Regions from separate parts of the Homo sapiens genome. Here region 1 is linked to region 2. Evidence: fine-mapped expression QTL. Tissue or cell type: whole blood. Region 2 holds a variant in brackets; the other region holds the start of a gene. All regions are shown on one strand. Distances are from middle to middle.

Region 1 (8,108 bases), 67 kb before region 2:
AAAAAAAAAAAAAAAAAAAAGAAAAATTAAAAAAAAATACTATAGTAACCAAAATGGCATGGTACTCGCATAAAAACAGACAAATGGACCAGTGGAACAGAATAGAGAACCCAAAAACAAATCTATAACCCTACAGTGAACTCATTTTCAATAAAGGTGCCAATAACATACACTGGGGAAAAAACAATCTCTTCAATAAATGGTGCTGGGAGACCTGGATATCCATATGCAGAAGAGTAAAACTAGACTGCTTTCTCTTGCCGTGTACAAAAACCAAATCAAAATGGATTAAAGACTTATATCTAAGACCTCAAACTATGAAATGGCTACAGAAAATATTGGGGAAAATCTCTAGGACATTGGTTAGGCAAAAATTTCTTGATTAATAACCCACAAGCATACGCAACCAAAGCAAAAATGGGATCATATCAAGTTAAAAAGCTTCTGCACAGCAAAGGAAACAATCAACAAACTGAAGAGACAACCCAAAGAGTGAGAAAACATATCTGCAAACTACTCATTTTGAGATATCATCTCATCCCAGTTAAGATGGCTTATATTCAAAAGACAGGCGATAACAAATACTGGTGAGGATGTGGAGAAAATGGAACCCTTGTACACTGTTGGTGGGAATGTAAATTCGTGCAACCACTATGGAGAACAGTTTGGAGGTGCCTCAAAAAACTAAAAATAGAGCTACCATATGATTCAGCAATCCCACTGCTGCGTGTATACCCAAAAGAAAGGAAATCAGCATATCAAAGAAATATCTGCACTCCCATGTTTGTTGCAGCACTCTTCACAATAGCTAAAATTTGAAAACAGTCAAAGTGTCCATCAACAGATGAATGGATAAAGAAAATGTGATACATATACACAATATAGTATTATTCAGCCATAAAAAAGAATGAAATCCTGTCATTTGCAACAACATGGATGAAACTGGAGATCATTATGTTAAGTGAAATAAGCCAGGCACAGAAAGAAAAACATCACATGTTCTCACCTATTTGTGGGATCAAACAATCAAAACAATTTAACTCATGGAAATAGAGAGTAGAAGGATGGTTACTAGAGACTGGAAAACATAGAGGGGGTGGGGATGTTGGGGGGCAGGTGGGGATAATAAATGTGTACAAAAATTAGAAAGAATAAGATCTACTATTTGATAGCACAACAAGGTGTCTGTAGTCAACAATAATTTAATTTTCATTTAAAAATAACTAAAACAGTATAATTGTTTTGTTTGTATAATAACACAAAGAATAAAATGCATGAGGGGATGAGTACCCTATCCTTCAGGATGTGATTATCACACATTGCATGCCTGTATCAAAACTTCTCCCGTACCTCATATATACATGTACCATCTACCTACAAAAATTAAAAATTAAAAAAATTATATGGAACCACAAAAGACCCAGAATAGCCAAACCTGTCCTAAGCAAAAAGAACAAAACTGGAGGAATCACATTACCTGACTTCAAATTATACTACAGAGCTAGAGTAAACAAAATGGCATGGTACTGGCATAAAAACAGACACATAGATCAGTAGAACAGAGCGGAGAACGCAGAGATAAATCCACACAGCTACGGTAAACTCATTTTCGACAAAGTTGCCAAGAACATACTCTGGGGAAAGGACAGTCTCTTCAATAAATGATGCTGAGAAAATTGGATATCCATATGCAAAAGAGTGAAACTAGATCTCTATCTCTTGCCATTTACAAAAATCAAAGAAAAATGGATTAAAGGCTGGGAGTGGTGGCTCACACTTGTGAGGCCAAGGTGGGCCAATCGCTTGAGGTTAGAAGTTTGAGACCAGCCTGGGTAACATGGCAAAAACCCATGTCTATACAAAATACAAAAATTAGCTGAGCATGGTGGTGCACACCTGTAGTTCCAGCTAATGGGGAGGCTGAGGTTGGAGGATTACTAGAACTCGGGAAGTTGAGGCTGCAGTGAGTCATGAGCATGCCACTCCACTCCACTTTATAACACACTGTTGTCTACATAAGGCTAGCTACATCCCTTAATCTTAAACTCCCACCGCTTTCAGACACTATCATACCCCGCCCCCCTTCCCCCCGCGAACCCCCGTGCATTCTGGGACTCATGGTTTGGTGAGTGTTGTCCAGGAATGGCTACAAACCCACATTACTATGATATCGGACTTCTACTTGTGTAGTCATTTGTTAGTTAACTGTACATTTTGGAAGGTTTTTGAGTAGAGAAGTGAAATAATCCAACGTTTGGGAAGATTTTCTTGTGCAGGATTGGAGGAGGACGGGAAAGAGGGAAAAAGCATTGCGCGCGTGTGTGTGTGTGAAGTTATTACAACTATCTATCTTGAAGCATGCGAGGTAGGAGGGCCTGAATTGCCATGAAACGCAATGACGATAAACGAAGGGACCCGTGAGAAAGGGGCAAAGAGGTGTCTCAATAAAATAAGCAACGGCCTGCTGTGGGAGGATTCGGGTCTCAGTATAGGCTGCCACTGTCAGCTTTGCAATATTCCTCGAGCCTTTATCCATGAGTAGGACAGGATGGCTCTACCTTGCAGGGTTACAGCATGGAGCTGCGGGACTGCGCCGGCAGTGCGCTGAGCGGCATCCCTGCGATAGGGTGAGTGCACCAACCCTTGTTGTCTCTCTTAGTAAGAAAGAGGAGGGGTAGATAATAGCATCTTCACCCCAGTAGTTGCCGTAAGTAGTAATGCTAAGAATCCGGCACGTCGTAGGCATCAATCTCAGTCCGCCATCTCCCCTTGCTACCACGCCAGGAGGTACACAGAGGAGACTGCCCCGACTGGCAACTCCCGCGCCGGGGTTCCCTGGCCATCCTCCCGCGTTCCCTCCAGCCGCGCGCTGTTGCCAGGGCCCGGGCACCGCCCAGCTCCACTACGGACCAATGGCAGCGCGGCTTGGGCACCGCCCAGCTTCAGCGGAAGCCAATGGAGGCGCGGCGCGGGCACCGCCCTGATCCGGCGCGGGCCAATAGCGGCGTGGCCCGAAGCGGGGGCCGCCCCGGTCGGGCGGGGAGGCGGGGAGGTGGCCACTGGCTCCGCCCCGCTCCCCTCTGACCCGGTGTCTAGTCTCTCCGTCTTCCTGTTCCAAACCACGTGGACGCGTCTGGGCTGCTGGAGGCAGCCCGAGCCGCCGCCGTCGGTGTCGCCGCCACCACCACCATCGGAGTCACGAGTCCCGCGTCTGTCCGAAGTCGCCGCTCTCGGGCTGCTCACGTCTCTTCGGAGAGCGCGCACATGGCGACTCAGGCGCACTCCCTCAGCTACGCAGGGTGCAACTTCTTGCGCCAACGTCTGGTCCTGTCTACCCTGAGCGGGCGCCCCGTCAAAATCCGAAAGATTCGGGCCAGAGACGACAACCCGGGCCTCCGAGGTAACTTGGTGTGGGCGGCGCGCGGCGTGGGCGCGGGGGCTGAGGGGAGACCGAGCTGATGCCGTGGGGGCCCGCGCGGTGTTGGTTGGGCGGCTCGGCGTCCGGCGAGCGCGTCGGGGAGGGCAGGTGGCGCGTCGCCTCCAAAGCCGGAGGGGCAGGCACAGTGGGGGAGGCGGGGTCGGGGCCCGAGGGGAGCGCTCAGCTGCAAGCTGCGCTCGGCGTCTCCGGGGCGCTGGTAGTAAACAGCTGCACGTTTTCCAGCTTTACGTGTAGCAACAAATCCCTGGCGTCGCCCCTTCGCGTCCCTTCGGCCCCTCTTGCCCTCGCCATAAACCTCTCAAAGGAGAAAAACAGTTTGTTGGACCGAAATATGGTGAATGAGCCGGGGGAGAGACATTGGGAGAGAAAAGTACCTTGGGTTGGTTCTCTGCCCTGTCTCAAAGCAGTTCTCAGAAGCAGCTGCCCCCTTGGACACCGGCTGTTCCTGTCGCCATGATTTCTCGGCTGCCCTCACACTTGTCCTTGGGTGTGGATAAAGAAATTTTTAAAATTCTGTGTTTGTTTTCAGCCGTGACTGTGATTGATGTGCGCAGGACAGGAGCTTTGAGATAGACTTTTAACAGTCATGGGCCTAATTGCCTTGACTTTAGAAAAGGGGTCGGTGACAATCGCTAAACTGCAGGCTTCCAAGCTCACTTCTTGCTCTGCAATGGTAGGTTAAAAAGAAATAGGCCCATTTAAACCCACATCTCATTAAATGGCGCCGGTTTTCAACTGGCCTTGGTTTACACCTGGCCCCCTGGCATGAGATACATGCATTTAAAAGCTTCTGACTGGTGGTTATCCCAAGTTGGGCGAGTCAGTAGTCAGGTGAAAAAGGAAAAAACCTGTCTGTAAATTGAAAAAGAGTGTTTGTGGTTGGTCCTGGAAGCTTCCTGAGCGGCGCTGATGTGTTTCATTTTGCACTGGCTCTTGTTTTATCTGTCTGAATGCATTTTTTGGATAGTTAGATCTCTGCCTCTCTTGGGTGGTGATTGGCTGCACATAAAGGGCAGAAGATGCCATGCTATTGACGGAGATAGGTTAGGAAGGAAAGAAGCAGAATATCCCAGGTACAGTGGTGAGAAACCTAGTGATGGTAGGAAAAACTTGTGTTGGTGGTTCCTGTCCTCTCTCTACTGCTCAAAAACACTGAGAAAGTTAGGGAGAGACCACAAATGGTTTATGCCACGACTTTTCCGTCAACAAGTGTTCCACTTAGTTTGACCCTTGGGCAAAGTGTTTGCTTGATTGCTGTGTGGCATTCTCAGCCAGCTCTCCATCCACTTTACCCTCAGGTTAGCTCAGAGAACTTGCCACTAGCTGGATATGGTAAGAAGATGGACTTCTACTTTGTATAAAAGTAGGCATAACTTTTTTTTTTTTTTCCAGAGAAATGGAAGTATAGCCTGGAAACCTGGGTTCTCTAAAATGAATCTAGTTCTATTTAGAGTTTTTCTATTGACAGGTGGCCTCCAATTTAATATTTAATGTTCCAAAGTATGCTTCTCCTTCTCCCCCTCCACTGTATGTGAGCATCTCTTCAAAGCATCTCACACATATGAGCTCCCGTTTCTTCCAAGAACAGGGCTTGGCCACTTGGCACTTTCTTGAAAGGGTGTCAGACGCTGATACCTGAGGGAGGTAGAACTGCTTGGCAGGTGTGCTGGTATTTTATGGGGAACATTACTGTAGAGCATTATTTGCCTTACCCCGTTCATATACCAGGGGAAGAAAGAGACTCCTAGTTATTTGTACATCCTTGCGCTGGCTTCAGGGCCTCAGAAACCTTGTAGATGTTTGTCTGCTTAATTTCTTTCTTTTTTTTTGAGACAGAGTCTTACTCTGTCTCCCAGGCTGGAGTGCCGTGGTGCGATCTCGGCTCACTGCAACCTCCGCCTCCTGGGTTCCTGCAATTCTCCTGCCTCAGCCTCCCTCGTAGCTGGGATTACAGGTGCCTGCCACCATGCCCAGCTAATTTTTAGTAGAGTATTTTTAGTAGAGATGGGGTTTCACCATGTTGGCCAGGCTGTATGAAACTGCTGACCTCAGGTGATCCGCCTGCCTTGGCCTCCCAGAGTGCTGGGATTACAGGTGTGAGCCGCTGCGCCCAGCCTGTCTGCTTAATTTCTTACAGAGGGAACAGAGAGATAGATATGCATTTGCAGATATACATGTATATGTGTATATGTATACACATACATGTAAGTGTATATACATATACGTGCACGCATAAATAGATGTAGTCCCTGACACATGATTTCTGGTCATAATCAAGGGAGTCCTTGGTAGCTTGATTGAAGATGTAGCCGGAAGCCTATGTTGCCCGTCATCTGTCCCTTTCTGACTTTTCCTAACTCAGATTCTCAGAGTTGGAAAAAACTCAGAGCATATCCAATAAAATCTTCAGTTCTAATGCAAGAATCACATCTCTTCAAGGTGCTTGCTTAAAACATCCCTCATGGTGTGGGCTTTGGAGGGTAGGGATAGTATGGGAGGCTTTCGGCCTCAGGAACATTTATTTAGAAAGTGTTTATTGAGCCACAGTATGTGCAAGGCTTTGTATGGGGGTGAGTGTAATATATGTGAGAAGCTGGTTGCCCCTGTTCTCATGGAGCTTGTCATGTAAGTAGGATGTTACTAAGTTTGAGTAACTTGAAGTAGGAAGGATTGAGTATTGTACAGGGGCTCAGTGGAGTTCAGAGCAGACACTTCCCTGAAAGTTACGAAGGAAGGCAGGTTTTCTGGACCTGATCTGGACAGATAGGATTGAGATGGTGGCTGCGGAAATCATTGTTTGCAAAATAAACAGTTCTTTTTTTAAAGAAATTTTATTTTAGAGTCGGGGGTACATGTGCATGTTTGTTACATGGATATATTGCCTACTGGTGGGGACTGGGCTTCTGGTGTACCCATTATCCAAATAGTGAACATCGTACCCAATAGGTAATTTTTCAATCTCCCTCAATCTTCCTCCTTTTCCAGTCCCCAATGTTTGTTATTTCCATGTTTAAGTCCATGTGTATCCATTGTTCAGCTCCCACTTATAAGTAAGAACATGGAGTATTTGATTTTCTGTTTCTGAATTAGTTCTCTTAGGATAATGGCCTCTAGCTCCATGTTGTTGCAAAGGACATTATTTCATTCTTTTTTTTGAGACAGAGTCTCACTCTGTCATGAGTGCAGTGGTGTGATCATGGCTCACTGTAGCCTCAACCTCTTGGGCTCAGGTGATCCTCTCACGTTAGCTTCCTGAGTAGCTGGAACTACAGATGTGTACCACAGCATCTAGTTGATTTTTAAAATTTTTTTTGTAGAGATGGGGTGTTGTCTATGTTGCCGAGGCTGGTCTTGAACTCCTGGACTCAAGCAGTCGTCCTGCCTCAGCCTTCCAAATTGCTGGGATTACAGGCATGAATAACCATGCCCAGCCTGATTTCATTCTTTTTTATGGCTGTGTAGTATTCCATAGTGTATATATACCACATTTTCTTTATCTAGTCAACCATTGGTGGACACTTAGGTTAGTTCCATCACTTTGGTATTGTGAATAGTGCTGCAATAAACATACAAGTACAGGTGCCTTTTTTGTATAATGATGTCTTTTCCTCTGGGTAGATACCCAGTAGTGGAATTGCTGGGCCATATGGTAGTTCTATTTTTAGTTCTTTGAGAAATCTCCATATGAAAGAAACAGTTTTTAAGTCAAAAAGTTCTTTATTTTCTTTATTTTACTGAGGTAAAATCCTTAATTTGTCATGGTCATAATACTTGGCAATTAAGAGCTTGGGGTCAGTATTGGACCTTGGTTTGAGTACGAGTTCTGCCTTTCGCTATTAGCTCTTGGTCCTTGGGCAAATTATTTTAACTATTCTCTTCTGAGCCTCAACTTTTTCACCTGTAAAGTGGGGCCAGTACTACTGACTTCACAGGGTTATTGTGAGGACTAAATGAAATAATACTTCAAAGTGTACTGAACAGTGCCTGGCACATAGGAAGAATAAATGTTAGCTGATTTTATTATTATGTAGCTTGAACCCACTGGGTATAGGTCTGCTCCCTGGCATGCCAAATCCGTTCCTGCTTCTATATGGAAATTTTTCAGATATTTGAAGAGAATTATGCCTTCTGTAAAGTTCTTCTCCTAGGTGGTTGTTTCCACGTATTTCTATGTTATATGTAAAGCACAGTAGTTTTCAACCAGGGGCACTTTTGTTCAGTGGGGGACATTTGGGAGCATTTGGAGACATTTTTGGTTGTCACAGCTTGGCAGAGGGGAATGCTACTGGCCTCTAGTGGTTAGAATCCAAGGGTGCTGCTAAATATCCTACAGGACAGCCTCCCACAACAAAGAATTATCCATTCAAAATGTCAGTAGTGCTGATGTAGAAAAACCCTGGCCTACTTGACAGTAGTAATTAAACCTTTTCTTTTCCCTGTATCCCTAATGATTAGGAATAGCAGCATGTGACACCAAGAAGACTACACAAGGATTTAGAAACAAATGAGACACAGATCAAACTCTGTGACTTCAGGCAAATCATTGAATCTCTTAAAACTGTCCCCTTCCATTGCAAAGGGGTTGTAAATACTGAAAGGAATCTGAACCCCAAAGAAGGATGGTCCCGGGCTGGTGATTATAATTGTCCAGCCACATGTATAATTTATG
Region 2 (8,108 bases):
CTGTTTCCTTCCTTTAACTAGATCAGTGCTCTTAGCACAGAGGGATGGGGATGGGAGGGAAATTCATCAAGGCAGGCTTTATATGTAGTTTGGTATACACCGAGTAGGGGTGAGAACCAGGATCAGTTGTTTTATAGCATGGCAAATATGTATTGATTTCTTTATTTTAAAAAGCTTTATTGAGAACCAATTCACATATGACACAATTTACCCATTTTAAGTACACAGTTTAAAGGTTTTTTAGTGTATTCACAGACTTGTGTAACCACAGCCACAATCTAATTTTAGCACATTTTTACTACCCCCAGAAAGAAACCCTGTGCCAGCTCACAGTGCCTCCCATTCTTCCCACTCTCCCCAGCCCCAGGCAACCACGAATCTCCTTTCTGCCTCTGTGATAGATTTGCCTGTTGTGGCTTTTTCATATTGTGTAGATAGAATCATACACTATCTGGTCCTTTGTGACTGGATTCTTTCACTTAGCATAATGTTTTCAGGGTTCATTGATGTAGCACGTATCAGTGCTTTGTTCCTTTTTTATGGCAGAAAAAAAAAAATCTTCCATTGAATGGATATACCACATTTTATGCATTCATCAGTTGGTAGACATTTGGGTTGCTTCTACGTTTTGACTCTTGTGAATAATGCCATTATGAATATTTGCGTGCAAGTTTTTGTGTGGGTGTATGTTTTCATTTCTCTTGTACATATTCCTAAGAGTAGAATTACCGTATCCTATGGTAACTCCCCGGTTAACATTTTGAGGAACTGCCAGGTTGTTTTCCACAGCGGCTGTACCGTTTTACATTCCCACCAGCAGTGTATGAGGGTTCTAGTGGTTCTGCCTCCTCACCCACACTTTTGTTATTGTATGTCTTTTTATTATAGCCATCCTATTGGATATGAAGTGATATTTCACAGTGGTTTTGATTTTCACTTCCCTAATAACCAGTGATGTTGAGCATCTTTTCATGTCCTTATTGGATATTTGTGAGGAAATATCCGTTTAGCTCTCCCACTTTTTTTTTTTTTTTTTTTCAGTGAGTCTTACTCTGTTGCCCAGGTGGGAGTGCAGTGGTGCAATCATAGCTCGAGTAGCTAGGACTACAGGCTCCTGCCATCATGCCTGGCTAATTTTAAAACAATTTTTTTGTAGAGATGGGGGTCGTAATAGACTGGTCTTGAATTCCAGGCCCCAAGCAATTTGCCTGCCTTGGCCTCCCAAACTGTTGGGATTACAGGTGTGAGGTACCATGCCTGTACTCTCCCATCGTTTAATTAGGTTATTTGTCTTTTTATTATTGAGTTGTAAGAGTTGTTTATATAGTTGAGATGCCTGACCTTTATCAGATATATGACTTGCAGATCTTTTCTCCAATCCTGTAGGTTGTTTTTTTACTTTCTTGATGGTGCACTTTGATGCACAAAGTATTTTAATTTTGATGAAGTCCAATTTATTTATTTTGTCTCTTATTGCCATCCTTTTGGTGTTGTATTTAAGAAATGGTTAAGAAACCGTTGCCTAGCCCAAGGTAATGAATATTTACTCCTGTATTTTCTTTAGTGAACTTTATAGTTTTAGCTCTTACAGCTATGACTTTGATCTCTTTTGGGTTAAGTTTTGTGTGTGATGTGAGGAAGGGGCCCAGCTTCATTCTTTCACCTGTGGATATCCAGTTGTTCCAGCATCATTTGTTGCAATGATTATGCTTTCCTCATTGAGGAAATTAGCCATAACTGTGTGGTTTATTTCTTGACTCTCAATTCTCTTCCATTGATCTATGTGTTTAGCGTCAGTGTTTTTAAAGCTCCTTAGGTTATTCCATGTGCAGTCGAGATTGAGAACCATCTGGCCAGAGTGGAGAGTTTGGCTGGTTTGATTGGGAGACAGTACAGTGCGAGGTTTTTGTAATACTTCACTATAGATGTGCAAGCCATCATTCTTCACTAAGCCAGTATTCCCTAACCTTGCCCAATGAGACTTGCCAGGGATTCTTGTTAACAACATAGATTTCTGGCCTCTATGAACTGGGGAGTACAGGGCCTGGTGGAGGGTAGGGAGGGATCAGCTTTGTGTGTGGACTGTGATTCTGGGCTCTTCCATATGGACATTTCCTACCAGTTGCAAGTTCACCATAACCTTCAGGAACCTGTGTATTTAATGAACTGTTCAGGTGAGTCTTATGGTCAGGCTAGCTGGGGTGACGCTAGGTCTGCCAGGCGAGACCATTAGAAGCCTGTGCACCTGCACTGCGGTTCATCCACAGAATTGCTCTTCCCAAGGTACTCTTGGACTGATGCCATCGCCCTGTGATGCCATTGTCCTTGTTGTGTTTACTGTGCACACTTCCCCGGCCACCTTATTTAATATTGCCTTCTGCCAAATATGTACAAATACTGTCATACCCACAGTTCTTCCCCGTCTGTGTTGTTTGCTTTGTTTACATTACATAGCACTTTTCAGGAATAAAATTAATTTATTTATCTAGTCTCTATCTATACCACTAGATTGAAATCCTCCTGAGGGAAGGATTTTTATTTTTATTTTTTTTCATTTGAGTGCAATATTCCCAGCACCAAGAACAGTGCCTAGCATACAGTAGGCACTTGATACATATTAAGTAAATGCGAGGGTATTATTGGAGAATGAAGGGAGGGACTTGTCTGTTTCAGCATCAGTAGTCATTGTGCTTGTTTTGAATGTCATGGTGCTGTGAATCATGGAAATAGGTGTTTCTGTCTTTGTATAGGCCACTCAAAAATCATTGCCTAAGCCAGGTACATTGGGACACCCATAGTCCCAGGTAGTCAGGAGGCTGAGGTGGAGGATTGCTTGAGCCCAGGAGCTTGAGGCCAGTTTGGGCAACATAGTGAGACCCCATCTCTTATAAAAAAAAGAGTCATCACCATATTTCTGTCCATTTTCTGCTAGGTCTGAACTAAATAACTTATGTGTCACGTACGAACTTCTAACCTTTCCCCCCCCAGTTTAATTTATCTTGCTGTATTGCGTGTATCTCTGCAAACTATCTAAATCTTCTTTGGAAACTGGCTGGCTGAAAGGAAGTACTATTTAATCAGATTCGATGAGAAGGTCTTAACTTCAGCCCTCTAGGTCTGGGAGATTAAAACCTTGGATTCTAGGTGGTAGAGGATAATTTTTTTTTGAATGAATTTCTTTTTATTTATTTATTTATTTTTTTCCTTTTTAGGATAGAATTTTTGCGGCATTTGAAGAGCTTTTTCCAGATTATGTTTAAAATTGAAACCAAGCCATGTGGTGAAGAACTCAAGGGTGGGGATAAAGTGCTGATGACCTGTGTTGGCATTGGTTTCTCCAACCTTAGCAAGACCCTCAAGTGATAACCATCACAAGATAAGGCCCCAATGCCTACAGACAAAGCAGAAGCTGCCACGGACACCAATGGGACCAAGTCCAAATGGATTAATCCAGGACAGAATAGCCACTTGCTTAATTTTCTGTGAAGAAATATCAATATACAAATAAAAGACATCCCTGTAGCATATGGTTTCCAGCTGTTTCTCCAGTGGCATTGCCATTGCCCAGGAGGGGCCCAGTCACCATGAGAGCTCCCTTGCCTTACCTGGAGGAAGAATGTGCCTTCAGGCCACAGTCGTGCTGCTAGAACAGTCTCGTAGCTGCAGTTCAGCTGTGCTTCCTCAGCCTACTATCATAGGCTTCCTCAGCCCTCTGTCATATGGCTGTTTTGCAAACCTGTGGAGTCTGTTACTGTTCTTTCTGCAAGGACTCACCTCCTTGAGCCTTGGTTTTTGTTGTAGGGATTAAATGAGATAATATGAGTGGCAGCTCTTCATGAGTCCTGCAGTGCTAAGCAAATGTCAGAAATTGGTGTATTAGACTATTTATCTTTGATCTTCTGAATGGATTGCTGTCATGGACACGGACACGGATCTTCATCTGGTTCATTGTATTTATATGTGAGGGATGGATGGCTGCGGGGCTCCAAGTAAGTTATTGGGATGTTTTTATATTCCAGGTGTGCTGTACATTCTTATTTTATTTTCACAATAGCTCTGTGATGTAA[G/A]TGCTATCTCCATGAGAAAATTCATAAAGGGTGTTTTGTTCCTTTGAAATGTATAATGTAAAGACATTAAATCTCCTCATTTAAGGATCTAAGTGTAATAAGTGTAATAGAGTCAGGGTCTGGGATTTTACCCTTGCAAGCTAATAAGTTAGATTATTACTTTTTTATTGATGCTACCAGAAGACATGAGGATCCTGGGTCAGAGATAAAGAACTTTACTCAGCATAGCAAGCAGCATGAACTTCGTGTTTATATTGGTTTCCCCTGTCTCACAGTGGACATGGAGGGGCCCAGGTAGATGCTATGCATGTTACAAGTTTGCATCATAGCCAAAGAACTTGTTATGTTTGGGGACTCCACCTATTTCATGGCAAGCCTGTTGTTTCACGTGCAGAGATTACTTCATCCCTTAAGACTGCCTCCTGCAAACACAGTTTTGAGAAAGAACCCAGGCAAGAGCCTGCCCAGCAAGAATATGCAGGAATACCAGGATCCATGGCAGATTTCCCCTGCCAGCTAATAGAGTCTGCATTTGATATGTGCATAGGCTTGAAGTTTGTAGAAGGGGAAAGATGTACTTCTTTCTACTTGAATTCCAAATGGTGTCCTCCCCCGGGGGTGAACTTTGCCTCATCACTCCCTCTCGGTACCTTTTGCTTTTTAAGTGAAAAGGGGCTAGAGAAAGGCTGTGCTTTGATGTCTAGGGGTGTGGGAGGATGTGGAGGTAGAGAGTTAACCTTGAGGAAGGCCAGGACATTCTGGACTATGACATTCTACTGAGAGCTTTACATACTGTATTGGTAATATGCTCTTGGTATATAACAAATGCTCACAAACTTAGTAGCTTAAAACAATACCTCTTTATCATTTCACAGTTCTGAAGGTCAGATATCCAGGCAGGGCTTGGTTGGATTCTCTGCTTAGAGTCTCATAAGGCTGATATCAGGGTGTGTGTCACCTGGGCTGGGCTCAGCTCTCATCTGAAGGCTCTGGGAAAGAATGTGCTTCCAGCTCATTCAGGTTGTCGACAGAATTCAGGGTTGTAGGACTGAAGTCACCTGTTTTCTTCCCATTTTTCTTGCTGGCTGTGAGCTGTGGACAACTCTTAGCATATAGACAGGCACTGTCCGTATTTCTGTTCACTTGGTCTCCCCTACCTTCAAGCTGGCAATGGTGCATGGAATCCTGGTACTTTGGATTCACCTTCCGTTTGATACCAGCTGGAGAAAACATTGCTTAAAAATGACTCATAGCACAATAGTCCTACCTGGATTATCTCCCTATCTTAAGGTCAACTGACAACAGCAATACTAGATTTGTGTTTAAATAACCAGGGGCTGGGAATCGTGGATTACCATCTAAGAATTTTGCCTGCCACACATACTGCAGTCTTACCTAGTGCCGCTGACGTTCGAACTCAGATCTGCCCATATAGAGCTCAAATCCAGAACTAAGGGGCACATTGCTTTTGGAATATCACATACCTGCCGTTCCTTGTACAAGCTCTGGAAATGGTGCTGTTGGTCAATGTAGGGTGGCACATAGAGGCCAGGCAGATTACTATAAGCAGTAGAGGGGATATGTGCTACTGTCTGCTGCAAACCTGGAAGTGTCTGGTGTGGTTCCAGCCCTGCATTTGGCAAAGCTGCTTCTGGAGTTGGAACATCTTGCAGGAATGGTGATGGTATTGCCAAAAAGAGGACAAATTTAATATTTATTTAAACAGCTCACTCCCAGCCCCTTCTCAAATTCCCAAGAGAAGCAATGTACCATTCCTTCGGGAAGAAGTCATCCTTTGCTGTTTGCTGGGACATCTTAGAGACTATTCAAATCCTGCATTCTCTTCCTTTTTTCTAGCTTAGCTCCTGGTCGGTCCACTTACTTGCTGGGGTAGCTTGAAGCGAGAGATTCCAGCGTTTTGGGGCTTGGTTTTCTATCTTGGTCTGTCTGTTCCTTTCTGCTGATAGAGATAGACCATTCTGAGTTAACGGCAGCAGTTGTTCAATGGGAGTGTGAGTTTTTTAGGCAGATAAACCTGTGAACTTGCTGGGGGTCATGGCAGTATCATTCTTTGCCTTCTTGTCATCTACAAGGCCCTGCTTCTGTCTTTCAACATCCTTTAACTACATTCCATGCAGACTCCAGCCAGCCTCCATCATGATGATTTTACCATAGTGGTCAAAACAGTTGCTAACGGGTGGGAGGCAGCCAGTGTGTTGCAACATGACATGTTGATTGGGAAGGAGCAACAGGAGGACCTGCTGAATTACACATTGCCCTCACTGGGCAGCTAAGCCTCAGGGGTTTTGTTCTTTTAAAAAAAAATTAAATTCTTTTTTGAGTCAGGGTCTCACCCAGGCTAGAGTGCAGTGGTGCAGTCCTAGCTCACTGTAACCTCAAACTCCTGTGCTCAAGTGATCCTCTTGCCTCAGCTTCCCAAGTAGCTGGGACTATAGGCATGAGCCACTGTACCCAGCTAATTAAAAAAAAATTTTTTAGAGATGTTGTCCAGGCTGGAGTTTTTGTGTTTTTGTTTTTGTTTTTCCAATTTAATTTTAAGTTCTGGGATACCTGTGCAGGACGTGCAGGTTTGTTACATAGATAAACATGTGCCATGGTGGTTTCCTGCACCCATCCACCCATCACCTAGGTATTAAGCCCAGGGTGCATTAGCTATTTATCCTGATGCTTTCCCTTCTGGGTTTTCTTTATTTTAAAAAATCATTTCCAAAAAAGTGGTAAAGGATAGCTAATCACAGACCCAAATTATAAAAACAAAAATTCAAGTTGTACCATGGTGCCTGTCCTCACACCAAACGGCAGAAGACCATGAGGTGGCCATTTCCTGTTAGGTCTTTGTGTTGGGAGGCTGCTAGGTGAGACCAATCCTGGCACTTAGTTTTATGGGCCCTGAGTAGAAGAGTTGAAGGTGCTAGAGGGAGGCAAAGGAAGTAGGCAGGATGTTGTACAGAAGGCTGGAAGCAGTTGATGAAATCAAAGGTAGTTGGGGACACTGGAGCATCAGTGAAACAATTTCCAAAGTTTTGGCCGTGCCTGAGGTGAGGGTGGAGTTCGGCTGGGGGAGGCGGAATCAGAGTGAGCTAAATAAGTGGATTTACTGTGCCTTCGTTCCAGGGTCTTTGGAGTAGAATGTGGGGTTCTGTTGGCCTTCCCAGTTGGTAGTGTCAGACCTGGGGTGTACAGGTGGCAATTTTAGTCTGTGATGAGTGGGAATGCAGCACTGCAGGGCCTGTGCCCACCCAGGATCTCCATTGTCCCTTACTCCAGAGTGGACGAGAAGTAGTTGGCACTTGGGTTTCCATGTTCAGATGGTGCTGGCCTGTTCTTTAGAAGTGACTGAAAGTTTAATGGGATTGTCAACAGGCAAGCTGGGCCTTTTTGTACTTTTCTTGGCCACATCTAAGAGGCCATTTGAGTGGAACGCTTTATCAGTGTTTGGCATCTAACAAAGGCCGAGCCACGTCACTCCTTTACTCCAGCAAATGAAAGCTGTCCGGTTGTCAGGGTTTGCCCGGGTGTGGGGCTGCCCTCCTTCCTGGTCGCATTTGGCCCGTACCTGTCAGGTACCCTGAGCACGGGCCTGGGATCGGCACCTGTTTTAAAACATCCTAGATATTTCAGGTATTCAAGTGTCTCTGAGGGCTCGGGACATTCTTTATTCCTGTTTCCTCCTCATTCCCACCCCTCTGAAGAGCCTTGTGTCCAAAAATCCTCAGATTGCTTAATTTGTTAATTTATTTCTGCCACAATTTGGGACATTACATATTTCAACTGATATAGAAATCAGAGGCCAACTTAAAGACAAAAGATAATGAACGAGCCTGGCTAAAAGATATGTGCCTCCGTGTGTCTGTTCCCTGAATACCCTGTTACTATGGCTGCGATAGAGCACTTGGGCTGCTGCCGGACTCCCTGGGGGCCATCTAGGCAACTGGTCTCCGTCTTGGGAGAAAATGATGCCCCAAAGGTAAGGTCGGCTGCTGCTTCCTGCTACATCTGGGATGGTGAACCATCCTGAAG

The links. PIP is the estimated chance that this variant, and not a neighbour inherited with it, causes the effect.
Region 1: RCL1 starts here. The variant in region 2 is fine-mapped to the expression of RCL1 in whole blood (TOPMed, PIP above 0.99). The same link has a PIP of 0.9 or more in B cells, CD4 T cells and blood mononuclear cells.

What each region holds. Positions count from the first base shown.
Region 1 is chr9:4,789,828-4,797,935 of GRCh38, forward strand. RCL1 (RNA terminal phosphate cyclase like 1) reads left to right here and starts at 3,117. Exons shown (of 9, transcript NM_005772.5): 1 at 3,117-3,400. The coding sequence starts at 3,265. RefSeq lists enhancers at 2,374-2,423, 3,244-3,293, 3,368-3,867 and a silencer at 2,804-3,163.
Region 2 is chr9:4,856,913-4,865,020 of GRCh38, forward strand. It overlaps RCL1 (RNA terminal phosphate cyclase like 1), which reads left to right. Exons shown (of 9, transcript NM_005772.5): 9 at 3,213-4,154. The coding sequence ends at 3,363. LOC124902113 (a long non-coding RNA gene) reads left to right here. Exons shown (of 2, transcript XR_007061402.1): 2 at 1-163. Among named protein-coding and RNA genes, the nearest start is that of MIR101-2, 11 kb to the left of the region's middle. The variant G/A (reference allele first, on the strand shown) is at 4,068.